Homo sapiens: one gene and its partners. The protein of the gene in region 5 purifies or fractionates together with the protein of the main gene of each other region. This does not show direct contact. Each region holds a gene or a part of one and is shown on either strand. Other genes may lie near its edges. The genes, in order: STK4, SH2D4A, MCAT, STK3, ZNF133, DAP3 and MTERF3.

The links.
Region 1: the proteins of ZNF133 (region 5) and STK4 purify together in Homo sapiens (affinity purification with mass spectrometry; 2 studies listed by BioGRID and IntAct, with this or other methods). This does not show direct contact.
Region 2: the proteins of ZNF133 (region 5) and SH2D4A purify together in Homo sapiens (affinity purification with mass spectrometry; one large-scale study listed by BioGRID and IntAct). This does not show direct contact.
Region 3: the proteins of ZNF133 (region 5) and MCAT purify together in Homo sapiens (affinity purification with mass spectrometry; one large-scale study listed by BioGRID and IntAct). This does not show direct contact.
Region 4: the proteins of ZNF133 (region 5) and STK3 purify together in Homo sapiens (affinity purification with mass spectrometry; 2 studies listed by BioGRID and IntAct, with this or other methods). This does not show direct contact.
Region 6: the proteins of ZNF133 (region 5) and DAP3 purify together in Homo sapiens (affinity purification with mass spectrometry; 2 studies listed by BioGRID and IntAct, with this or other methods). This does not show direct contact.
Region 7: the proteins of ZNF133 (region 5) and MTERF3 purify together in Homo sapiens (affinity purification with mass spectrometry; one large-scale study listed by BioGRID and IntAct). This does not show direct contact.

The regions. Positions count from the first base shown.
Region 1 is NC_000020.11:45,077,517-45,080,521, reverse strand, and holds the end of STK4 (serine/threonine-protein kinase 4), read right to left. Parts: 3' UTR 501-3,005; downstream 1-500. UniProt on the Homo sapiens protein: Stress-activated, pro-apoptotic kinase which, following caspase-cleavage, enters the nucleus and induces chromatin condensation followed by internucleosomal DNA fragmentation.
Region 2 is NC_000008.11:19,330,693-19,334,192, reverse strand, and holds part of SH2D4A (SH2 domain-containing protein 4A), read right to left. Parts: intron 1,239-3,500; coding exon 1,079-1,238; intron 1-1,078. UniProt on the Homo sapiens protein: Inhibits estrogen-induced cell proliferation by competing with PLCG for binding to ESR1, blocking the effect of estrogen on PLCG and repressing estrogen-induced proliferation. May play a role in T-cell development and function.
Region 3 is NC_000022.11:43,136,899-43,140,398, forward strand, and holds part of MCAT (malonyl-CoA-acyl carrier protein transacylase, mitochondrial isoform a precursor), read right to left. Parts: intron 401-3,500; coding exon 183-400; intron 1-182. UniProt on the Homo sapiens protein: Catalyzes the transfer of a malonyl moiety from malonyl-CoA to the free thiol group of the phosphopantetheine arm of the mitochondrial ACP protein (NDUFAB1). This suggests the existence of the biosynthesis of fatty acids in mitochondria.
Region 4 is NC_000008.11:98,542,689-98,546,188, reverse strand, and holds part of STK3 (serine/threonine-protein kinase 3), read left to right. Parts: intron 1-3,500. UniProt on the Homo sapiens protein: Stress-activated, pro-apoptotic kinase which, following caspase-cleavage, enters the nucleus and induces chromatin condensation followed by internucleosomal DNA fragmentation.
Region 5 is NC_000020.11:18,287,275-18,291,326, reverse strand, and holds the start of ZNF133 (zinc finger protein 133), read right to left. Parts: upstream 2,801-4,052; 5' UTR 2,723-2,800; intron 1,429-2,722; exon of another isoform or gene 1,253-1,428; intron 1-1,252. UniProt on the Homo sapiens protein: May be involved in transcriptional regulation as a repressor.
Region 6 is NC_000001.11:155,727,091-155,730,590, reverse strand, and holds part of DAP3 (small ribosomal subunit protein mS29), read right to left. Parts: intron 2,984-3,500; coding exon 2,853-2,983; intron 1,550-2,852; coding exon 1,469-1,549; intron 1,384-1,468; coding exon 1,225-1,383; intron 1-1,224. UniProt on the Homo sapiens protein: As a component of the mitochondrial small ribosomal subunit, it plays a role in the translation of mitochondrial mRNAs. Involved in mediating interferon-gamma-induced cell death. Displays GTPase activity in vitro.
Region 7 is NC_000008.11:96,248,111-96,251,610, forward strand, and holds part of MTERF3 (transcription termination factor 3, mitochondrial isoform 1 precursor), read right to left. Parts: intron 2,986-3,500; coding exon 2,796-2,985; intron 1-2,795.

The DNA of each region.
Region 1 (3,005 bases), about 27 Mb from region 5:
GGCCACACCAGGGCAGGAACCTGCTGTTCCACCTCTGAATGCTGGGCCACGTCTGGCCTGGCTTCGTGCAGCAGCAGATGAGGATGAAGGATTCCAAGGTGATCATCTCACACTAGAGGCTTTATACAGGCGGGCTCTTCTGTCCAGGATGTCTTCTCTCCCTCACTTCCTACTCTTTATTAATCTAGCCATCTCTTCTTCATTTTTAAAGTTTCAAGGTATATTGTCTCCTCTAGAAGAGTTTCCTTGGACATCCCAGCAGAACCGTCACTCCCTCTTCTGTGTATCCACAGGCCCTGTACCTTCTTCTACCATGGTATGTTCAATGTTGTGTGTTTTTGTGCTTGGCTAACTCCCCAAATGCCCTGCAAAAACTGTATCTGGTTCATCTTTATTATATTCCTGATAACTAGCTCAGTACCCTGGCACATAATAGAAGCCCAACAAAAGTTTACCAACCTCTCCCCAGCTTTGGATCTTAGAATAAACACACCACTGAGTCAATGTCACAAAGATTGTTCACAACACCATTATCCAGGCTATATATTGAGGTTCTCGTTAATAAGGGTTTGTGGTCCAAAGGACAGTTTATTTAAAACAAACGTGATGAGGTATAGGAAGAAGAAAAGAAGGAGAACAACAATTCTAACATAAAAACACAGGAAGCATCTCAAACTTAAAAAAGAAAAAAGGAGTGGGGGCAATGGAGGAAGCTATGTCTCATACAAACTGCTGACCTCAATTGATTACTTACATCCAAACCTTACAAAATAGCATTTCAAGTCAGCACTTAAGCCAGTGTTATTAGATTTTCTTACAAAAAGTTAAAGCTACAAACTTCACATTTTTAAACTGTACATAGCAAAAACATTTAAGCTTTTTTTTTTCCAAGTTGGTCCGAGTGCAAGCTGGTAAAAGAGATTTTTTTTCCAAACACAAACAAGAACATGTATTCCAAAGACAATGAATATAATACTGATAAAAACACAAACATAGTGCTTAAGAAAAGATGGGGTGAGGTGGAGATGTAGATTGGGCAGGAACAATTTTCTAGTAAATAAGGAGCTGCAATCTTTAGAGGCAACATGGTATGCTAGAAAGGACACTGGAATAAGAATCAGAAGACCTGGATCTGAATCATGGCTCTGCCATATTCTAGCCACATGACCTTGAGCAATAGACTTTACTTCTCTGAGCCTCAATTTTCACATCTGTAAAATGAGGATAATAATACCTATATCTCCCAGCACTATTAAGTTTCTATAGATATAGGGCTATTCAGATTATCTACTTCTTCTTTTTTTTTGAGACGGGGTCTCATTCTGTCACCCAGGCTAGAGTGCAGTGGTGAGACCATGGCTCACTGCATCCTTGACCTCCCTGGGCTCAGGTGATCCTCCCACTTCAGCCTCCTGACAAGCTGGGATTACAGGTGTGCACCACCATGCCCGACTAATTTTTTTTTTTTTTGATGTTTTGTAGAGATGGGATTTTGCCATGTTGCTCAGGCTGGTATCTATTTCTTCTTGAATGAATTTTGGTACTTTTTATTTTTCAAGGAATTTGTTTATGATGTTGAAGTTGTTAAATTTATTAGCATAAAATTATTCATAATATTCTATTGGCTTTTTAATACCCATAGGATGTATCATGATGTCGCTTCTCTCCTTCCTGATATTTAAAAGACTTACTGAGTTTTAAATGGTATAAATTTCTGGCATCTGGCAGGTGCTAAATAAATGTTTCCTGGATCGAAATCTACAGTCTCAAGGAGTCAAGGCTACAATTCTTAAGTTGCTTCAGATGACTGGTTCTATCTATTTATCAATACATCCATCGATCCACTCATCCACTCATCCATGCATCCTCCTACCCTTCCTCTTCCCCGTCAAACATTCATCCATCCAATTGGTGGCTTGGGGAAAGGGACAAAAAGGGGAAAAAAAAAAAAAAAGGAAAGTGCTTCAAAATTACTGATGGAGCAATTAAAACAGTCTTAAAGAATTCTGAGATTTTTGGCCAGGCAAGGTGGCTCACGCCTGTAATCCCAGCACTTTGGGAGGCCGAGGCGGGTGGATCACAAGGTCAGGAGTTCAAGACCCACCTGGCTAATATGGTGAAACCCTGTCTCTACTAAAAATACAAAAATTAGCCGGGCGTGGTGGTGCAGCACCTGTAGTGGCAGCTACCTGGGAGGCTGAGGCAGGAGAATTGCTTGAACCTGGGAGGCGGAGGTTGCAGTGAGCCGAGATGGCGCCACTGCACTCCAGCCTGGGCAACAGAGTGAGACTCTGTCTCAAAAAAAAAAAAAAACACAAACAAAAAAAGAATTCTGAGATTTTTTTTTTTAAAGACAGAATCAGGTCATTGTTTCTTGAAGGCAGAGAACAAGCGAGGACCTCAAATTTCTCTGGAAGCTCGAGTTCCAAATGCTCAAGCAATAACAGAAGCCCAAGGCTCATTGAAAGCAAGCTGACATATCTTAAATTTAGTATTCAACAACAACAACAACAACTAGGACTTGTTCCTTTGCCTTTCTGTCACTAGAAAACAAATATACCTTGTCAGGAAATTTCTCTGATCCAAAACAAATTGACTTCTGGCCAAAAGGCTTCATCAAGCTAGACTGGTAAGCAATAGACTTTGTTGGATCAGCAAGCTGGGTGCACACATTCCTGAAACAAAACAAACTCCAGATCAAAGTTCATGACCCAAGAATAGTTATGGGGGAAAACTGAACTTTCTTTTATTTGGATCTAGCTTAGGAAGGGAGAAAATGGGCTTTCTCCTCCTCTCTGGCCAAGTGCAAAGTTCTTTGTTTAAAAAAGAAAGAGAGGCCAGGAGCGGTGGCTCATGCCTGTAATCCCAGCAGTGTGGGAGGCTGAGGCGGGTGGATCACCTGAGGTCAGGAGTTCAAGACCAGCCTGACTGACATGGTGAAACCCCGTCTCTACTACAAATACAAAAAAATAATCTGGGCATGGTGGCATATGCTGTAATCCCAG
Region 2 (3,500 bases), on a different chromosome or scaffold from region 5:
ACGGTGGTCCTCATGTCTGTCCCAATTTCCACTTCACCACCTCAGGGTAAGGCTGTCAACATCACTGCCCAGAGCCAGAGGAGGACACCCAGAGCACCCCAGGTACCCAGCAGAGGAGCGCCATCACCTGCCTCAGTTTCCCTCCGAGTTACCTTCCTACATCTGCAGTTGATGTCACTTCCCTATTGAAAAACCTCACCGTCCAGAGAATAAGTTCCAAACTCCTAAATCTGGCCTCTGAAGCAGTTGTCCAAGTGTATTCCAAATGCTCAGAAGACCTCATCATTCCCCAAAGAACCATCCGTAGTCAAGTCTAGGGATCTTGGTTAAGCCCTCTGCCTGCACTTTCCTTCCTGGCCTTCTGTAGCTGGAAAACCACTCCTTTCAAGGTTTGGTTCAGATTTCACCTCGTCTGTGGATCAGAATGATAGGTTCCCACCTATGCTTGGTAAACTTTCTGTTTGTACCTTAATTATAGCACAAATCACAGCCTGCACTGGCCGCAGTGAGCTGTGCATATGTCTACTTCTCCTCCTAGACTGGAAGCTCCCTGTTTCTCTTTGAATTCCCAGTACCTTGCACTGGGTAGGCACCTAAAGAGCCTGATTATCCAGCCGCCTGTATCTAAGTGATCTCCTTGGAAGGCCTGAAGCTTGCACAGTCACTGCATTTCTCACATATGTTCCTGATACTCAGCTGCGTCGGCCTGCATTGCTCTAACATGACTCTAGTGCAGCCACGGGTGATCACTGGGGAACTCATACACTCATACAGATCAAAACTGGAATGACAAGCAGGGAGATGAAGCAGCTGATTTGACAGCACTAAAGATTTTCATGAGGTCTTTAGTGCTATCAAAGACTTTAGATCAAAAGTCTAAATCAACCTTCTAAAGAGATCCAAAAGGTCTTTAGACCAAAAGTCTAAATCAACCTTCCAAAGAGATCCAAAGTGACTTTTGTGACCCTCCAACCCAACCCTACTCTCCCACCTGATACTGTGAGCAAGAGGTGTGTTTGCAATGTTTTCTAAAGTCTGGAGAGTCTTTAAGTCTCTGGTTGGTTTGCAGATCTCATACCTGGGCTCTTCTGCCTCCTGTTCTGCTTTCAGCCGGGCCCTCTCAGCAATAATTTCATTACAGAGCACATCATAGGGTTTATCTAGATGGTGTTCGCCCATCACCCATACCCAGACTTCCTTATCAGCTCCAAGTTTCCAATGAACCGATTTGCCATTCTCTGCAAACAAACACACAAACAAAAAATTCAGATTGAACAAATATCTTTAGTCACAGATTACTGTTTCCATCACTAAAGTATTTTGGGTCTTTGAAAATATATATATATATATCAGATGAGACAAAGAACTTCCAACTGCTCAGGAACATCTGTAGGTAGCAATGGCAGTGGTGGCAGTGAGAGGCAGCTTCAGTGAAAATATTTGTTTTAAAAATATTAGGGGTATGTTTTTTGCCCGTGCTTTTTTTTTTTTTTTTTTTTTTGACAGTCTCACACTGTTGCCCAGGCTGGAGTGCAGTGGCATGATCTTGGCTCACTGCAACCTCCGCCTCTGGGTTCAAGCCGTTCCCCACCTCAGCCTCCCAAGTAGCTGGGATTACAGGCACCTGCCACCATGCCCAGCTAATTTTTGTATTTTTAGTAGAGACAGGGTTTCACCATTACAGGCATCTGCCACCACGACCAGCTAATTTTTGTATTTTTAGTAGAGACAGGATTTCACCATCTTGGCCAGGCTGGTCTTGAACTCCTGACCTCGTGATCCACCCACCTCAGCCTGCCAAAGTGCTGGGATTACAGGTGTGAGTCACTGCGCCTGGCTGCATGTGCCTATTTTATAAATGAAGAAACTGAAATGGGAAGCAAGCATTCATTGTTTGCATTATCCTTTAGGGTAACAGAGCTAGCACTTCACACCATAAATTCTTACATCTAACTATCTCCCTGTAACCCAGAATTCCACAGCTGCTCAAGGGTGTGGCATTTGTACTACATTCACAGGCTTCATAGGTGGGTAAAAAGCAGGTTTTATTATTTTATTTATATTGTATTTTATTTGTATTTATTATTTTATTTTAGAAATGGTGTCTTGCTCTGTCACTCAGGCTGGAGTGCAGTGGTGAGCTCATAGTAGTTAGGAATGCAGGCATGCATTACCATGCCCAGCTAATTTTTAAAATTTTTTGTAGAGACAGGGCTTTGCTTTGTTGCCCAGGCTGGTCTCAAACTTCTGGCTTCAAGCAATCCTCTTGCCTCAGATAAGGAGGTATTTTAGATTTAGACCACCTTGAGTTCAAATCCTAGCCCTGTCACTTACGAGCTATGTGACTTGGACAACTTTCTTAAACTCTTTAGACTCAATTTCCTCATCTGCAAAATGGGAATACCAATATTTACTACCTAGGGTTGCTGTGGGCAGGCAGGCTACCTGTGCCAAGTTCTTCCCCTAGTGCCTGCCACATAACAGGAGTTCAATAGAGGTTAACTGCTATCATTGCTAGCCTATTATTTACTTATATGGCTGCCTCAGAGATTCACACCAGCCTGTGAGAAGATAATATAACCAGGTAGTATGATACTTGGTGAAGCTACTTAAATAACCCTTGTTTACAATTGGCCTCCAGGTTAGATTATATCCTAGTGCTCCTGAAATGCGGCCACATCGGTCATGCTCCCTTAAACCGGGGGCAGGTGGAGCGTACCTAGGAGAGGCCAACAGAGACCATCCCTGAGTCTGTCAGGCCTACCCAGGGCAACTGTGGGCCAAAGGTGGACCTCTAGTCAAGACCCCAAACTAGCAGTGGTGCTGACTGCATGGAAGAGGGCACCTGGCTGGTGTGTGTGCTGGGCCCTGTTTGATGAGCAAAACATCCACACTGGGATTGTGTCTTGTCCTCTCACACTAAGTCAAAGGAGGTTTCCAATTAAGGTGTCTTCTGTCCAACGTATTCTTGACTTTTGTACTGTGGCCTTGGGATACATTACCAAAGCAGGCTGCTCAAAGCCAGGCTCGTGCTTTCTTTTGACCCTTTCTACCCTTCTTGGTACAGTGGACACTCCTGCAGTATGTTCTAAACAGAGACGCTGGGCAGAGGGAACAGACTCAGACTCTGCACTACCAAAGAATTCCCATTTACTGTTTTCACTGTGGAGAAACAGCAAATGTGGCCTCCAGGTAAGGAGGGGAAGGTCAATCCCACCATGCCCAAATGGGGCTGGGCACCAGTGCCAGCTCCTGGCAAGCTCTTTGTCTGTTTGACATAATGCCAGATGGTTTGTTAACTTTAGAAAGCTGTCATACCTCATAAAACTCCCTTTATTACACTCTCTCAGGCCAACTAATAATATTTTTTTTATGTCAGCCTCTCAGCCTTCACCTAAGTAGTTCTCTGTCGGTATTTTTTTTTTGACAGCAAGAGGAAGATGCCCAGAAAGATGGCAAGTGGCACTGTGCCAGGGGAAGAAAAAGGAAGAGCAGAGGGA
Region 3 (3,500 bases), on a different chromosome or scaffold from region 5:
CAGCATTCTTGCTCCTGCCTGCTTTGCAGCACTCGGTCTACCTCACTGCCCTGGCCCCAAAATACTTCCTAAAGACCGGGCTGGACCCAGCACCCGCCAGACTGCTAGGCCTCACGGGTGTGGAGCAGTTCCAACCCTCCGTACTGGACTGGCCTATGAAGGCAGTTCCCATCAACACCCACCTCTTGGTGTCCTGAAATCACCCTGCAATCTGGAAAGAGGTAGTTGGACACTTCACATACGGGGTTCTCTATGCCTAAAGACTTGCAGTGTTCCCGGGCTTCCAAACAGGCGAAGTTGAACTTGGACTGAGGCTGGCCGAGGACAGACAGCATCCCACTGGGGACAGCTTCTGAAGCTTCCTGCATGGCCTCAGCTCGGATTTTCACTGCATACAAACCTGGCCAGAGAGAAGCGCATTTGGAAAAATGAGGGCACAGAATGAAGGAGAAAAGGCCAGGCCTGAGAAACAAAGCCCAAGCTCCACTCTGCACTAGAGACAGGGGCACTGGTGTCTGCCACCAGCCAGCAGGGCCACAGTTCCACACACCTCCATCGACTGCACAAGCGCTCACCACCAAAAGTATGCTGCTGTGCTTGGCACTATACAAACTAACCCAAGGAGCTTCCTGCTATAAAGCTGGTTTGGAGTAGGACAGTGGTGCTCAACAGGCCGGGGGCAGTGTCCGGAGACGTTTTCCGGTTGTTCTGACTAGGGGAGAGTGCCACTGACGTCTAGTGGGTAGAGTCCAGGGATGCTGCTCAACATGCTGCACTGCACAGGTCAGCCCCCCTTGCCCCCAACAAAACAAATGACCTGGCCCAATAGCGCCACTGTTTTTTTTTTTTTTTAAATAGTGCCACTATTGAGAAACCCTGGTAAAAGGTAAAGAGGAACAGGGTGGAAGCCACATTGCCTTAGCCAAGTCACAACCTCCTTGAGGTTCAAATTTTTAGTTAGTAAAATGAGGATAATAATATCTAATCTGCCTGGGCTGTTGTGAAAGCTGGGAATTATTATTAGTTAGTTTATTAAGAGAGATCAGGCCGGGCATGGTGGCTTATGCCTGTAATCCCAGCACTTTGGGAGGCTGAGGCAGGACGGCTTGAGCCCAAGGAGCTCGACACCAGCCTGAGCAACATAGGGAGACCCTGTCCCTGCAAAAAATAAAATACAAATTAGCCAGGCATGGTGGTGCCTGCCTGTAGTCCCAGATGCTTGGGAGGCTGACACGGAAGGATCACTTGTGACCAGCAGGTTGAGGCTGCAGCTGTAGTAAGCTATGATTGCTCCACTGCACACCAGCCTGGTGACAGAGCAAGACCCTGTCTCAAAACAAGAACAACAAAAAAGAACCATCAGAGACATGGGCTACTGTACTACATGAATTTCAGTGACATAATTGTCATAAGTCAAGTGTTACTGTCCCCACTTAGAGCTGGAGAACCTGACACAGCCAATGCAGATGAACGAAAACCTATGACTCCTGATTCAGTGTGGCTCAAGAGCATGGAGAGAGGGCAGGCAGTGCCAATGATAATAAGAGTGGCCTGAGGGCTGGTCGCTGTGGCTCGCACCTGTAGTTCCGGCACTTTGGGAGGCCAAGGCAGGCAGATCACTTGAGCTCAGGAGTTCGAGACCAGACTAGACAACATGGTAAAACCCTGTCACTACCAAAAATACAAAAATTAGCCGGGCGTGGCAGTGTGCGCCTGTGGTCCCAGCTACTTGGGAGGCTGAGGTGGGAGGATTGCTGGAGCCCAGGAAGTTGAGGCTACAGTGAGCTGTGTTCATGCCACTGTATTCCAGCCTGGGTGACAGAGCGAGACCCTGTCTCAAAAATCCCTACAAAGCCACACATAAGAATGGCCTGAAACTACCAGACCCCTGACACCCTGGTCCTGCTTCCTGGGCAGAGAGAAGAGATGACCAGACTGAGAAGAGATTAAGGGACCTGCACAGTGTTTCACAGGTCAACAGAGAGGTCTAAGGAGCAAATCCTGACATATCTTCATTCACTTAGCACTTCTATGTACTGGACTTTTAGCTCCCTTACACAAGAACAGGAGGACAAATACATAAACAGCCTGTGACATCAGGTACTTAGGAGGCTAAGGCAGGAGGACTGCTTGAGATCAGGAGTTAGAGGCTGCAGTGAGCTATGGTTGCATCACTGCACTCAAGGCTGGAAGACAGAGGAAAACTCTGTCTCTTAAAAAACAAATGAACAAGAGCCTGTGACAAGAAGTAGAAGAAAACATACAAGAAAAGGGAGGAGAGCACGCAGACATCCTCCCACAGAGACATTCAAAACTATGTAAAATGTCAAGGGAAAAAAGTAGGCCAGGCACAGTGGCTAATGCCTGTAAGTAATCCCAGCACTGTAGGAGGCTGAAGCTGGAGGATCACTTGAGTCAGGAGTTCCAGACCAGCCCTGGCAACATAGCGAGACCCCATCTCTACAAAAACTTCTAAAATTAGCTGGGCATGATGGTGTGAGCCTGTAGTCCCAGTTAGTCTGGAGACTGAAGCGGGAGGATCACTTGAGGCCAAGAGGCTGAGGCTGCAGTGAGCTACGACTGCACCACTGCACTGCAGCTGGGGTGACAGAGCAAGATACTGCCTCAAAAAAGAAAAAGAAAAAGAAAACACAAAAGTGTAACTATGCTATAATTCTGCACTTTTTTTTTTTTTTTTGACACAGAGTCTCATTCTCTAACCCAAGCTGGAGTGCAGTGGCACAATCTCGGCTCACTGCAACCTCTGCCTCCTGGTTCAAGTGATTCTTGTGCCTCAGCCTCCCAAGTAGCTAAGATTACAGGTGCACGCCACCACACCCAGATAATTTTTGAATTTTTAGTAGAGATGGGGTTTTACCACGTTGGTCAGGCTGGTCTCAAACTCCTGCCTTAGGTGATCCACCCACCTTGGCCTCCCAAAGTGCTGGGCTGGGATTACAGGCGTGAGCCACCACACCAAGCCTAATTCTGCACATTATGTACACATAAAATGATACATGTAATAAAATTGTTTCATAAAATGTGAAATTATGAAACTTTCCTTAATAATGTTATAACGCTTAAAAAAAAAGCACTGCAGTGAAATTCACATAAAATATAATTAACCACTTTAATGTGTATAATTCAGTGGTATTTGGGGTATTCATAATGTTGTACAACCACCAACTCTCTCTAGTTTCAAACACTCCATGTCCACTATGTAGGCACTCTCCATTTCTCCCTCTCCAGTCCCAATAACCTCTCGTGTTTCTATACTAGATTCTTTTTTGTTTGTTTTGGACAGGGTCTTGCTCTGTCACCCATGCCGCAGTGCAGTGGCACAATCGTGGCTCACTGCAGCCTCAGACTCAGGGGCTCAAGTGATCTTCCCTCAGCCTCCTGAGTAGCTGGAATTACAGATGCATGCCACTAAGTGCAGCTAATTTTGTGTATGTGTGTGTGTGTGACAGGGTGTCACTCTGTCACCCAGGCTGGAATGC
Region 4 (3,500 bases), on a different chromosome or scaffold from region 5:
GTATGACTTTTTGTCACAGAGATTTTAGTGAAAACCAATTTTGAAGTTGAACAGATAAGTGGTTTTTATAGCTGCAGTTGTTTTATGGACCTCAGCAAATTTTAAATCCCATGAGCCAACTTTCTGTGTTTTTTGTTTTTACAAGTTAGACATCATTCTGTAATGTGAGACTTCAGTGTTTCCAAAATTCTAATCAAGTGATGTTAGTATAACCCCTAGGGATTGTCATATTGTAGTATAGCAGTAGTAAAGTATGTGAAGAAGTTATTGAGGGAAGACTTACTTTTTCTGAAACCATATAATTATTGTAGTTTTGTTTTTCTCGTGATCTAAATCTTTAAAACTTCTTAAATTAGTTGGTATGAGGTCTCAGCTTATGTCACATCAGTCAAAGCCACATTTGCTAATGTGTCTTTAGCATTTTTGTTCCCTAATAAGATGATAGCAGTATATTATTTTTGGTTTTCTAAAATCTCTACAATGTGTACTGAAGATTTAGAATTTCATCTCTTTTTCCATTGGAGTTTCAAGTGAGTTGCCTGATTTAACATCCTTGTCAGTTTAAATTATGTTTACACTTACTCTTTTATACCTTTAACCATGAAGCTAGAAATTATGGGCCTATTTTCCTTACCTCTAGAAAGGAAAATTACCCACAGACCCTTTGAAGGGAAGTGGAGAAAAATGACAAAAAGTATTTTAAAATTTGATCTGCCTTTTAAAAAATGGACGTGGACCCTATGGGCATGTCCCAAGAATAACTTTCTAAACCTGTTTTTAGCAATGATGGCATTACTTTTACCCTCCCGCTCCCAGTCTTCCTATTCAGATATCCCTAAGGCCTCCTCATTCCCCATGGAATGTCCAGGCTTCAGCTGTGTCACCAAGATCCTTCACAGTCTGGCACTAGCCATTATTTACATGTGGATCTCTACTTCTTCCTTATGGATTATGTTTTATCCATACTAGTCTGTGCCAGTTGGAATTCTGAATGCTTGACACTGGGTAAAAGCAGGTTGGTTGTCATTCAAGAAAATCAATTTAGGATTTATTATCCTGGAGTAGATTAGGACCAGGTCAAGAATCTATGTCATCAAACTGATGGGGTAGGAGAGATTATTTCATCATGGGTGACTCTGGGAGAGTAGTAGCTTCAGCAAAGAAAGACTGGGGCTTTTTAGTTTGTTCAGCTCAGATCTACTCAGTTAGCTCTGTTTTTATGGAGGAACTTTCTGATCTTACAGAGCTGTGGCTAGATTGGTAGCACTAGTTGCCCTGGAGGGAAACTATGTCTTATGGGTATCTGAGGAAGAGCCATATTTTCCAGCCAGGTTTTTATTTTTCATGTGTGTATCTGTTGTTTCTCCAGATAAGTCACGAAGTTTGTCCTGGTAAGAATGCTGTATAAATCTCCTCTGCCACATAATAGTACATGCTCTTGGAATATTGGTTTCATGAATGAATACTAATTACAGTAGAGTCAGAGTCAAGCTGTGTGTGTGTGTGTGTGTGTGTGTGTGTGTGTGTGTGTGTGTGTGTTATAGTAGAATTAAAGATACATAGCTCTGGAAGCTAAGAGAACTTTCAGGTAAACCTCCTGCCTTGGTAAGATACTTTCTTTTCAAGTGTTCTACCATCCCTGCTTCTCATTTCACAGAGCAGACCCTCTGAAAATGTGTTCCTTAAGATACCCATTCAGTGAAATTCTCTGATAAATATAGATAAATAATATACAGTAATCAGAATTATTTGGGAAATGCATATTTATCCTAGAGATAAATTATTAGAGAACTACAGTATATATTATTAACTTATTAAATACAAATAGTACAGGAAGGAAACAGTTTAAAAATTACATTACCCAAACTTTCCTTCACTTATTTGACCATGAAAAGCTTTTAATGAGGAACGTATCAGTGATTAACATCCTGTGTAATAAGCATCTGAGAAACACATTTTGGGAAATGCTATCATGAGAGCCCTCTAGTTCCCTGACCCTAGTTCCTAGTCTGCTTTCTTTTTATTAGCACACCCTCCCTTCACTTCTATATCCAGCTTAGAGGCTATATTTCATTATTTCGTTGCTTCTGCCACTCTCGTATGTTCTAAACTCCTCTTAGAGGCTATATTTCATTATTTCATTGCTTCTGCCACTCTCTTATGTTCTAAACTCCTCTTAGAGGCTATATTTCATTGCTTCTGCCACTCTCTTATATTCTAAACTCCACTGCCCTAATGTCTTGTCTTTTCTGCCTCTCCTGGAAAACTTTGATATGGTCCAGTCTCAGTGTTCATCTTCTCTGCATCTTTACCCTGGCTATTGAGTGCTGCTGGAGATAATCTTCCATCTGCACAGATGAGGGCTGCCAGATCAAGACCTTCTCCCCCATTTGGGCCCTCAACTTTCCTGGAGGCCTGTGTTTCTCTGTTCAGCAATTCCTCATTCTACAGAGTGGCTAGTTTAGATCTTCACTAGATCTCTTCTTCCTGCCTCCCATCTCAGTTTCAGTAGATGACGTTGCTCCCTACTTTACAGAAAAAAAGTGAAATGTTATCATGCAAGTACCTAGAGAAGCTGTATAGGTGTTTTAAATGTGGTCTTTGGAATAAGGTTGAAAAATTGAGTCATTCTTAATTTCCGTTTCTTCCTTCACCCTTCATGGAAGTAACATCTCATCAGTTCTGCCCCCTAAATATCCCTATTCTCTTCTCATGATCTCTGCTTGCATTTCTTTAGTGCAAGTCCTCATAGTTTCTCACTTGTGAGGCTTCTAAACTGATCCTCTGCCTCCAATCTTCATTCCCTCCCCACCATACAGATTTCAGCACATTTCTCTTCTGCTTATGCCCTCCCAGTGACTACCAATTGCTTATAGGCTAAAGCTCAACACCAGTTAAGAAGCAGTATATGCTCTGGTTCCTACTTACCTTTCTATTCCCTCTTCATCCTTCTTCCAGCTTCTCAGCTCTTACAGAGCTTTTTTACCTTTGGCCACTTGCAATGCCTAAATCCTCCTGTGGGATTTATGCTTCTTTTGCTAAATCATATTCATTCACTCAGGCTCAGTTAAGAGGTTGCTTCCTCTATCAACCCCAGGTTAGGAATAAGTGCCCCTCTAATAGGCTCCCATCTCACCCCAAGCTTTCACTCTTACAGCACTGTCATGCTTTATTGTGAGCGTGTGCTTTTGTTTATTTCCCACTGTATTTTTGATACCTAATACAATACCTAGCACTTGGTAAGAGTTCATGAAATGTTTTCTGAACAAATGATGTGGTATAGTGAAGAGCATGGGATGTGAAGCCAAATCATTTAGTAATTGTGTTGCTTAATTCTGTCTGAGTTTCAGTGATAAATATTTGTCTCTCTGTTGTGTGTATATGTGCAGGTGTGTGTATTAGGTAAATTCAAAACATGCCTAGCAGTGTTTTAAATATAGTTGATAATCAATAAAGGATAATATTCATCTGTCCACCCTATTAATTTATCCTTCCAACAA
Region 5 (4,052 bases):
AAGAATATTTTTTGGTGTCACTTGAAAAAGCCTTACTAAAATATTCGAAACATAACAGAAGGATAGCAACGCAGACAACAAACATAGATAATTCTTTCAAGGAGTTCAGCTCTAAATGGGAGGAAAGACAAGGCAAGAAGGTGAAGAAGAGACAGGAAGCTAGGGCAGTGCAGAAATGGAGACAAAGGGAAAGAAAAGGAATCGAGAAGAATGCACAGGTGGAATAGGAGGATACAACTTTTGTTTTGTTTTGAGGTGGAGTCTTGCTCTGTTGCCCAGGCGACAGATTCTCCTGCCTCAGCCTCCTGAATAGCTGGGATTATTGGTGTGTGCCACCACGCCTGGCTAATTTTTGTATTTTTAGTAGAGATGGGGTTTCACCATGTTGGCCAGGCTGGTCTCGAACTCCTGACCTCAGGTGATCTGCCCGCTCTGGCCCCCCAAAGTGCTGATTACAGGTGTGAGCCACTGTGCCCGGCCAGGAGGACACAACTTCTAATGGGAAGTAAGTTTGGAAACAAGGATGCAAGGAAAACTCAGAGGTCCAGCTTATATCAAGTTATAAGGCTGTCAACACAGATCAGCAAGATCAGAAGAAATAGGAGGAGAAATGAGGCAGAGATAGGGAAAACTGGGATGCTGTTTCCAGATACTTTTCCCTCTCCTGCCTCTGACCAGGGCTGTTCTGACTGGTGGAAAAAAAAGATTTTTTTTTTAACAATGGGGGAAAACAATATGGGCTAGATATTAAATGATATTAATAAGTTATTAATTTTGTTGGGTATAACAAAATATAATTGTAACAATGTAACTGTATAACAATGAAATTGTGGTTATGTTAAAAAAAGAAGTCCTTATGTGTTAGAGATGCCTCCTGAAGTGTTCCCAGGTGAAATGATATAACTGGGATTTGCTGCCAAAACTCTAGCAGGGAAAAGAGTAAGTGAGAGTATTGGAAGACAGAAGAACAGAATGTTAACAACTTCACAGGACCTGACAAGCCCTGGGAATGAGCAGTCTGAACAAATACTGAAAGAAGGAATGTAGGGGAAGAATATAGGTGTAATGAATGAGAGCATCAGCTCTGAAAAATATTCCCTGTGAAAATGATCACTCTTAAAACAAGCCTAGTTTCCTGAAGGAACCAGCTGGGGCCCTGATCCCTGGATGGGACATTGTAGAACACAGACGTCAAAGCTGAGCAAAAGAAACCCACTCATGGTTCGAAATGCAAAAGGTAAGTGGCACCCACCTGAAGCTGGGCTGTCAGGAGCTCAGGAGTACCCCCTTTCCCCAGCAGGCAGTCCTCTCTGGGCAGACAGGAGCCACAGGGAGGCAGAACAAGAACAAAAAGCGTTCAAGAAAATCAAGGGAAATCCTCTCCAGCAGGGCAGTACCTCCTATTCCTTAACAGCATCAGGAATGAACCTGCCACAGAAGAAAAGGAGAAAAGAACTGCGGGCAGCTTCCTGGGAACACAGCTGGGGTACAGGTTGAAAGCACGACCTGCCCTGATATGCTGTTGACGCTGAGCATGAAGCGACCTTCTCTGTGCCTGTTATTAATGAAAGGTAATATTCACTGAACACTTAGTATACACCAGAGACTGTTACAGCCACTGTAGGAGTTTCACCTCATTCTATCCTTTCAACAACCCAATACGATAGATGCTATTATCCTCTTTAGGATAAAATCGAGGAAACTGAGGTACAGTGAAGTCAGCATCTTGCCCAAGGTGACACAGCTATAAAGTGACAGAGCCTAGAGGAAATGTGGCTGTGGAGACCGTGCTCTTACACAGTAAGGGCAGTGACGGTGAACTCTGGATTGCAAGGATTCTCTGTGTCCATTCTGAGATGAATCAAGATTGGTCATAAGGTTTTAAGTGTTGAATCTGGGTGATGGAGATCTGGTCTATAGAGTTCTATCTACTTCTGGCTGTTTGAAATTTCTCCGCAATAAAAACTTAAATGGAATGTAAAATCCCAAAGCCTGGCCACACCAGGGGCCTGGGAATCCGTAATTCTTGCGATCAATGACGGTCCCTGGGACCTTTGGAAAAAACCTGTCCTGTGCGTCCCAGCCAGACTTCCTCCTCCAACGCCCGAACCCGGGGGTGACCAACCAAAGTGAAACCCTAAGATCGCGGCAAAATGGCCACCCCAGATCCAGTCTAACCTTGGCTTGTTTGGTCAAGCCAGACCGCTCCTCATTCCACTCCAGCAAAGCCGAAGAATAGTGTGGCCCCAAGAGACTAGCCCTCAACCGACCAATGCCTCGGGGACACATGGCCCCAGGGATGGTTCCCATTCCACCACCTGGGAAATACCATTCCCCCAAAAAGCTTATTTATTCAACTCCCCCAAAACCGGGGACTTATGGCATCAGCGACTCCCTTTCCCAATACCCGACTTCAGCCAAAGCCGAACCTGTCCCCACCCACAAGAACCCTAGGAGAGAGAGCCCGATCCCCCACTCATCACCATCCAGTTTCACGGATGGGCTTCACCCAACTCCCCTGGAGATGCACGCCCACACCCCCAAAATAAGACATCTGGGAGAGGACGGCCTGCGCCACGCCAGCGCGTTCCCACCACAATCACCACCCCCGCGCCACCCGCACGGTCCCCAAATTCAGCCCATAGTCCAGCCTTTCGGGACCTTCCTTTTCGCGCAGAAAAGGGTACGGCTGCGGCAAGGGTCCCGCGGGAGCCTCACTCACCAGCGCCACCAAAGAACAAGGGGTCGCTCCAGCCACCAGCTGGGGAGCTCCTCCAGCGGGGCGCCAGGACTACACTACCCCGAATCCTCGGCACAGCGCCCGGACCACACCTCCCAGGATGCTCGGCGCCACCAGGCGCGCCCTGAAGGCCGGCAGCTCCCATTGGCCTCTGACGGATCCGTTTCTGAGTAACACGCTCCGGTCACCGGAGAATGGCCACTGTGGCACCTGAATTCTCCCTCTTTTTTCTTAACCACGTGCATAAAACACGTAGGAGCTCCCGAGAAGAGTGCCTGGCCCTACTGTGACCCTCCTTCTGAGCGCCTCTGTCTCGAAAACTACACTTCCCAGTGACCCCTGGAGCGACTTCCGCACCCGGTACCGGCCCCGCCCCTTGGCGCGCGGAAATGACGTTTCGGGGCGCATCTGTTCGGCTTCTGGGGTTGGCGGAGGTGTACCGCTGGCTGACCAAGCTTGTTCAGGTGCTGGTTTGTGTTGCAGCGGCCTGTGGTCTCCCTGGCTCCAGCCGCCTGCTTGGAAAGTCACGCCCCATATTCCTAAACACCGGGCGAACGTCATGTCGTATACCCTTTAGCTCCATTTAAAGCCTTGAAAAGGCCGAGCAGTCTGCCTGAAGTCTCACATCCCGTACGAGGTAGACCCGATTCTGAGCCCACGCCCTCAACCCGAATACACCTTTTCCGGTGCCCTGAGACCTTTTTCTTCTTTTTGAAATCCACGAAGTTATTGTTAAACTCTCATCTCCTGAGAAGCAGAAGCCTCAGTCTCGGGCCAGAGCTTGGCCTGCCGTCGGCTTGGATCTCTAGGTCTTTGTCCGGGATCCTGGTTGAGAACAAGATTGCGCTGGTGCCATCTGGGACGCCCCATCTGGGGAGCTCGAGGGGAAGGCCCACGTCACTCTTGAGAGGGCTTTTCCACCCGTGCACCCTCTCACTGCCCTTCACCTTCCTCAGATAGGCTTTCTGAAACTTTGTCATTCTCTTGGAAGACCAAGAAAATGACCACTGTCTGAAGGGCCAGGGAGATGAGAATTTCCTAAAATTCTTTTGTAGCTCTCAGAGGGTGAATCCATTCCCTTCTGGTACCCCGAGGCTACATTATTTATTGTGAATTCAGTTCAGTCCTGGCTCCGGAGACATGTCCAGTGTCAATTGGATTCATCCCTCAACATCATTCTCTGCCTCATGAGTCAGTCATCACCAAGAAATTAGTTGTTAATACACATAAAGGTTCAGAACAACAATGCAGGGATGCCTGTGTTCAAGTGTTCACTTGTGCTGGCTGTACAATAAAGACACAGATGGCTGAC
Region 6 (3,500 bases), on a different chromosome or scaffold from region 5:
AGCCTGGAATGCAGTGGCACGATCTCCACTCATTGCGGGCTCTGCCTCTTGGGCTCAAGCCATCCTCCCATCTTAGCCTTCCAAGTAGCTGGAGCTACATACAGGTGCAAACCACCATGCCCAGCTAGTTTTTTATATTTTTTGTAGGGACAGGGTTTCACTGTGCTGCCCAGGCTGACCTCAAACTCCAAACTCCTGGACTCAAGCAAATCACCTCTTGGCCTCCTAAAAGTGCTGGGATTTATCAGCCATCACACCAGGCCTTGCTGTTTATCTTCACATATATATACGAATATGTATGTGTGCATATGCATATACGAATATGTATGTGTGCATATATACGTATATATACATATATACATATATGAATATTATATATACATATATACATATATGAATATTATATATACATATATGAACATATAGGTATATTCGTATATTATGAAAACATATGAATATATGTATATATAAATATATATGAATATATGTGTGTATATATACATATATGAATATATATGTGTGTATATATACATATATATGAATATATATATATGGCGATCTCGGCTCACTGCAACCTCCGCCTCCTGGGTTCAAGCGATTCTCCTGCCTCAGCCTCCCGAGTAACTGGGATTACAGTCATGCACCACCATGCCCGGCTAATTTTGTATTTTTAGTAGAGATGGGTTTCTCCATGTTGGTCAGGCTGGTCTCGAACTCCAAGCTCAGGTGATCCGCCCGCCTCAGCCTCCCCAAGTGCTGGGATTACAGGCATGAGCCACTGTGCCCAGCCATATATATATTTTTTAAGAGACAGGATTTCACTCTGTCACCCAGGTTGGTGTGCAGTGTTGCAATCATGCCACACTACAACCTTGAACTCCAGGGCTCAAGTGATCCTCTGGCCTCAGCCTTCCAGTAGCAGTGACTACAGGTGTGTGCCACCATGCCAGCTACCGGCTAATTTCTTATTTTTTTAGAGGCAGGGGCCTTGCTATAGTGCCCATCCTAGTCTTGAACTCCTGGCCTCAAGCGATCCTCCCACCTCAGCCTCGTGAGCCAATGGGATTACAGGCGTGAGCCACTGCACCCAGCTCTTTACTGTTTATCTTCAAATATTCCTAGGGCAAGAAAACATATTGCATGGTCTACAAGGCTAAGACCCAGCCTCCATACTGATGGAATCAGAAATCAGAGAAACAAGATAGAGACACCCAGTTTTCCTACCGGGCTTTTATCTTCTCTTTTCAGAGTGGTTCTTCCCCAAAGAGCATTGATTCCATCCACGGCCACTAGGAGGTGAAACATACCCAAAGAACTTTGCCTCTTTAGCTCTTTCAGCACAATTCCAACTGCATCTGTGGCGTTCCTCACCCGTGTTATGCCCTATTGGGAGAGACAGTGGATTGTAGTGCTACCAGAGGCCTTCTCTTGTTATCGCATGTTACACATTCAGTGTTTTTTCTTATACCTGTTCAACCACTTCTCCCAGAGGACTCCCTTTCTCAGTGCTTTCTCTCTTATTCCAGACATACTTCTCTTGAACTTTTATCTAAAAGCAAGCAAAGAAAATAAAAACCAAAAAAAAGGCTACTTGGCCTAAGGGTGAAACCATCCCTTGAAAAGGTTGGAGGCTAAGGTTAACAGGAGTTCATTTTAATCTATTGTTCAGGTTCTGTAAGAGACCTCAATGTAGAAGTGAATGCTTTCTTTTCTTTCTTTTTTTTTTTTTTTGAGACAGCTTCTTTCTCTGTAACCCAGGCTGAAGTGCAGTGGCATGATCTCAGCTCGCTGCAACATCCACCTCCCAGGTTTAAGGGATTCTCTTGCCTCAGCCTCCCAAGTAGCTGGGATTTCAGGCGTGTGTCACCACGCCTGGCTAATTTTTGTATTTTTAGTAGAGATGGGGTTTCGCCATGTTGGCCAGGCTGGTCTAGAATTCCTGACCTCAGGTGATCTGCCCACCTCGGCCTCCCAAAATGCTGGAATTACATGTCTGAGCCACACGCCTGACCTCTTTTATCTTTTTTTTGAGACCATATCTCGCTCTGTTACCCAGGCTGGAGTACAATGGCGCTATCTCGGCTCACTGAAACCTCTGATTCCCAGGTTCAAGAGATTCCCCTGCCTCAGCCTCCTGAATAGATGGGCCTACAGGCGTGCACCACCACACCCGGCTAATATTTGTATTTTTAGTAGAGATGGGATTTCACCATGTTGGCCAGGCTCATCTTGAACTCCTGACCTCAGGTGATCTGCCTGCCTTGGCCTCCCAAAGTGCTGACATTACAGGTGTGAGCCCCTGTGCCTGACCAAAGTGAATGCTTTCTAATCCATTTCTGCTTGGAGCCTTGAATAAACATACATAAGGGATTCTGATGAAAATGTCCAGAATGAGACTCTGGCATCTGCATTTTTAACAAGCTCTTAGGTGACTCTGCTTTATATCCAGAGTTGAAGGCCCCTGGTCTAGACAGGGTATCTAAGAATCACCAGGGTAAAGAAGAATTTTTCCAATACATTTCTGGTTCCCTAAAAAGATATTGTCTGGAGAAAATCATGTAGTTGGAAATGTGCTTGCGAGGGATTGGAGGCTGTACCTTGAAAAGTCAATGAATCAACTGGATTTCACTTTGCTACCCACAAAATGGGAACAACTTACTGTTGCCTATTTATTTCACATGGATAAATGAGTTTCAAGTTATGAGTCCACTGTGAGCAAAACGTATGAAAGAAATTAAAAATGATACAGTTATTCCAACTCCAGTATCAGTTCTCCATAGTCTATTGGTACTCAGGGCACAAAGAATCCATGTAAGGACTACCTAGCACTCAACTTCTGGGAGTCTAGTCACCTGGTTCAGGAAGCGCTCATTTGTAGTTTTGAAATTCTTCAGCCAGGTTGAAGCCTCTAAAGGTTGATCAAAGCGCTGTTTGTTGTAGCTGGACTGCAGAAGATCCCGACAATTTTTCACCCAAAGATGAGCTTTAAAAAAAAGAGGCAGAAGAAAACAAGCCAGGCAGAAACTGTATTCAACTCGAAATATTCTATGCCTCTTTTAAGTTATGGGAAATGACTTTAGTTTCTCATATATATATTTCTTTTCTTTTTTTTTTTTTTTTTTGAGACAGGGTCTTGCTCTGTCACCCAGGCTAGAAGGCAGGATGTGATCACAGTTCACTGTAACCTTGAACTCCTAGGCTCAGGCAATCATCCTGCCTCAGCCTCTCAAAGTGCTGTTGAACCACTATGCCTGGCCTTGTCAGGTCCATCTTAGACTAAACATTATCATTAGAATCAATATATAAAACATACCAAGTGTATTAAATATCACTTCTGCTTTCTGGCAGGTTTGAAAGGTAAGTCAGAAAATGTGGATGTTACATAAGCAGGGTTGTTTAAAAAAGAAAGAAAATGTGGATGCACACAACACTGAACAAAAAAGAGACAAATGCAAGTTTTGACAATCCATACTGACGACTCTAGAATGCTGATAAATAGT
Region 7 (3,500 bases), on a different chromosome or scaffold from region 5:
ACACTGTTGGGGAGAGTATAAACTGGAAAACAACCCCTATGAAGGACAATTTGGCAATATCTATTGAAGTTACAGATGAACACACCCTTTGACCTAGCATTTCCACTTCTAGAAATACGTCCTACAGAGAGACACCAATATGTGTGATTTTTCAGAAGTATGTACAAGGTAAGTCACTACAGCCTTGTCCTAACAGTGGACTGGAAACATACTCCATGCTTATCAATAGGTACTAGCGAGATCCGCAGCATGGACTGTACTAGAGTTAAAAAGAATAGGCAGCACCAAGAAAAAATAATCTCCAAGATACAGTGAAGGTAAGATAGTGGGATACAGAATAGTGTGTATAAATGCTACCAATTGTTATGTATTTGTATTCATGTGTGTATACACAGATATATGCTTCCTAGAAGGTTGAACAAAAAATCCTGATAACAGTAGCTGTGTCGATAGGTGGGTCTTGAAAGGCCAAGGGACAAAGTAGGAGAAAAGGAGGTATTACTTGTTTTTTTGGCAGCAAGGTTCAGCATTTGATTAAAAAATTATCAAAACTATTGTCTACATTGTAATGATTTTTCCAATAAAAAATCAAGATATAAGGCCCACCCAACCAAAAAAAGAGTATTTAAATAATTAAAATGCGACTATTCATTTGAAAATTCTACAAGGATTTTTTAAATATAACTTTTTATTTAAAAAATAAGTACATGAAATCAGTGCTGTTATAGAAATAAGACTGCTGCATATATCAGAACCAGAAACAAAGTTCATTTAAATAAAGGTTCTCATACCTGTGCCTATTCAGTATTTTTTACTGTATACTCTTTTGAATACATGTGGCTGCATTACCTATTAAAAAATTCTAAGTAATTTTTAAAAATGTTCTACAGCTTAATTTGATAGCCAGCCAGGTTTAGGAATCAATGGACTATGCTACCGACGTGAGAATATTCCTCAATTGTTAGGAGCATATATGGCTTGAGCAAGTAACTTAAGCTATTAAGTTTCCTTCAAAGAATTAAATGTAGAGACAGTGTGTAGTAGTCAGAACCCTGGAGTTTGATTAACTGGGGTTGAAACCACTTACTCTGCTACTTATACTAACGGTGTGTAATCTTGGGCAAATTATTTAACCTCTCTGCGACTCCTATGTACAAAGGTGCTATTAACAATAATGGTGCAGCGTGTGAAATGATCCCTACCCTCCTGGTATTCATGCTTTCTTGGAATAAATCTTGAGCAAAAAGGGCAAGCTGGTTTTTGACTGCAGAGAGAATTAGTGTTCCTGACAGCCAAGAAGACTAGAGCTGGATATGTCAGATGAGTTTCTTAGAATCATTCTCTCTCCCTTCTGTATTGTGATAGACTATCACTCTCATGAAGGGAAAGACTGTTTTTGATGTCTAAAGTTTAGGCCAGTGTCTCACATATAGAAGGGCTCAAATGTTCAATTTAATAAATAAGGTTTTTGTTTAGTTTTTTTTCCTAATTCCGAGAAAAGACATTAGACTGATGGTTTAAGGAATCGCAAAGCTCTCTGAAATGTAGTAAGGATCAACATCAGTGTGGAGAACAGTCTGGAGGGTCATGACTAGAGGCAGACCAATTAGGAGACCATTGCAGTAATCTTGGTGTGATATTATGGGGAACTGAGGCAAAATAGTCAAAGCAAAGATTCAGAGAAATGTCATGACTGATTTGAGCTATAAGAAGAGAAGAACTGATGGGCTTTCATGATTTATTAGATGTAGATGATAAAAGAAGAGAAAGCAAGTTAATACCAGTATTTCTGAGTTGGGCAAAAGGGTATTCAGTGAATCTGGGAATACAGACTGGGTTGAATGACAGGTGGGGGCGACGATGAATTCAACATGTTAACTTAGGGACAGGGGTTTTGCCTTGTTCTCTGTGGTATTCCCAATGCCTAGCAGGATTCTTACCTCACAGATCAATATCTCACTGTATTTATTTTCACAAATTCAATAATTCTTTGAATGTTGAATGAAGTACAGAGATGTTTATAAAAGTGCTCCTTAAGAAGAAAACAAGGAACAACCAAAATAGCCAACTTACGGAAATGATTAAGCAAATTATACAGTAATTTGCCAAGACAATCTCAAATGTCTAACAACAAAAATTGGCCAGACAAAAACTACAAAAACCACAAAAGATCATATCTTTAAGTGCACTCTCAGATAAGTTAGCTATTTGTTGATGGGTTTTTTTTTTTTTTAAGAAAAAAACGTATTCCAGTTTCTAAAGAGAAAGAGTTAATTACTGACTCAGTAATAAGTTGAAAACATAAAAATAATAATGGAGCCAGGCAGGGTGGCTCATGCCTGTAAAATCCCAGCACTTTGGAGGCCAAGATGGGCAGATCACTTGAGGTCAGGAGTTCGAGAACAGCCTGGCCAATGTGGCGAAACCCCATCTCTCCTAAAAATACAAAAATTAGCCAGGCATGGTGGCCACCTGTAGTCACCCAGCTACTTGGGAGGCTGAGGCAGAAGAAGAAGAAGAAGAAGAAGAAGAAGAAGAAGAAGAAGAAGAAGAAGAAGAAGAAGAAGAAGAAGGAGGAGGAGGAGGGGGGGAGGGGGAGGGGGAGAAGAAGAATGGGTACTTGAATGAAAGAACTGTTGTAAATACTTAATTTAGATCAAAGAAGGTCTATAACAAAAAAAATTCATGTTATCTCAGTAGACCCTTGTGCAGCAGAGATTTAAAGAATACCTTCCACATATATTTCCTTCATAACCACTTCTTAGGTTATATGAGAATCCTTTTAAAAGTCCTACCTGGTCTTCAGATTTTCAAGGTCTTCAGAGAAAATTGCATGATTTTTTGTCAGGAATGCTCCCAGTTGGTTATCCTCTATACCCACATCTTTAAGAAACAGAAGCATTTGCTTAATGTCTTTTTCAAAATCCAGTCTCAGAAGGAGGTTTGCTGCTTCTGGATGTTTTTCTATCTTGGACAAATCCACGCCTATAATAAATTATAAATACTGTTTGAAGATGACTTCTTAGTTCACCCATTAAACTCATATACATAAGCACAAGAAATTACTGATGGAGATCAACACCTATCCAAAGGAGCACTGAGATAGATCAATAGAAACTTCTAAATATTTTTAAACTAAGTTGGTTGCAGAAACAACATAGTATTTATTTTAAAAATCAAGTACAGAGGAAAATAGAGCATTTAGTGCTACATTTCCCCCCAAAACAAATTCACTAAGTCATATTGGTGTAGGGTCATCATCTTTGTCTAAGGTTTCTTGAATATTGTTTCAGAATGTTTGTCAGTCCCAGATGAACCCCACAGTAACTGGTAATTCTGCAGGGTAACAAACAATATGAATAAAATGTTACCTTCTTTGAAGATTTTATTTTTCCTTAGTTATAAGCATTATTTAAAAAATATGTTTATGATTCCCATCATAGGGGGAATAAAAATGACCCTGTGCCTTACTCATCGTTGTAATCTCTAGGTCTTTAGCA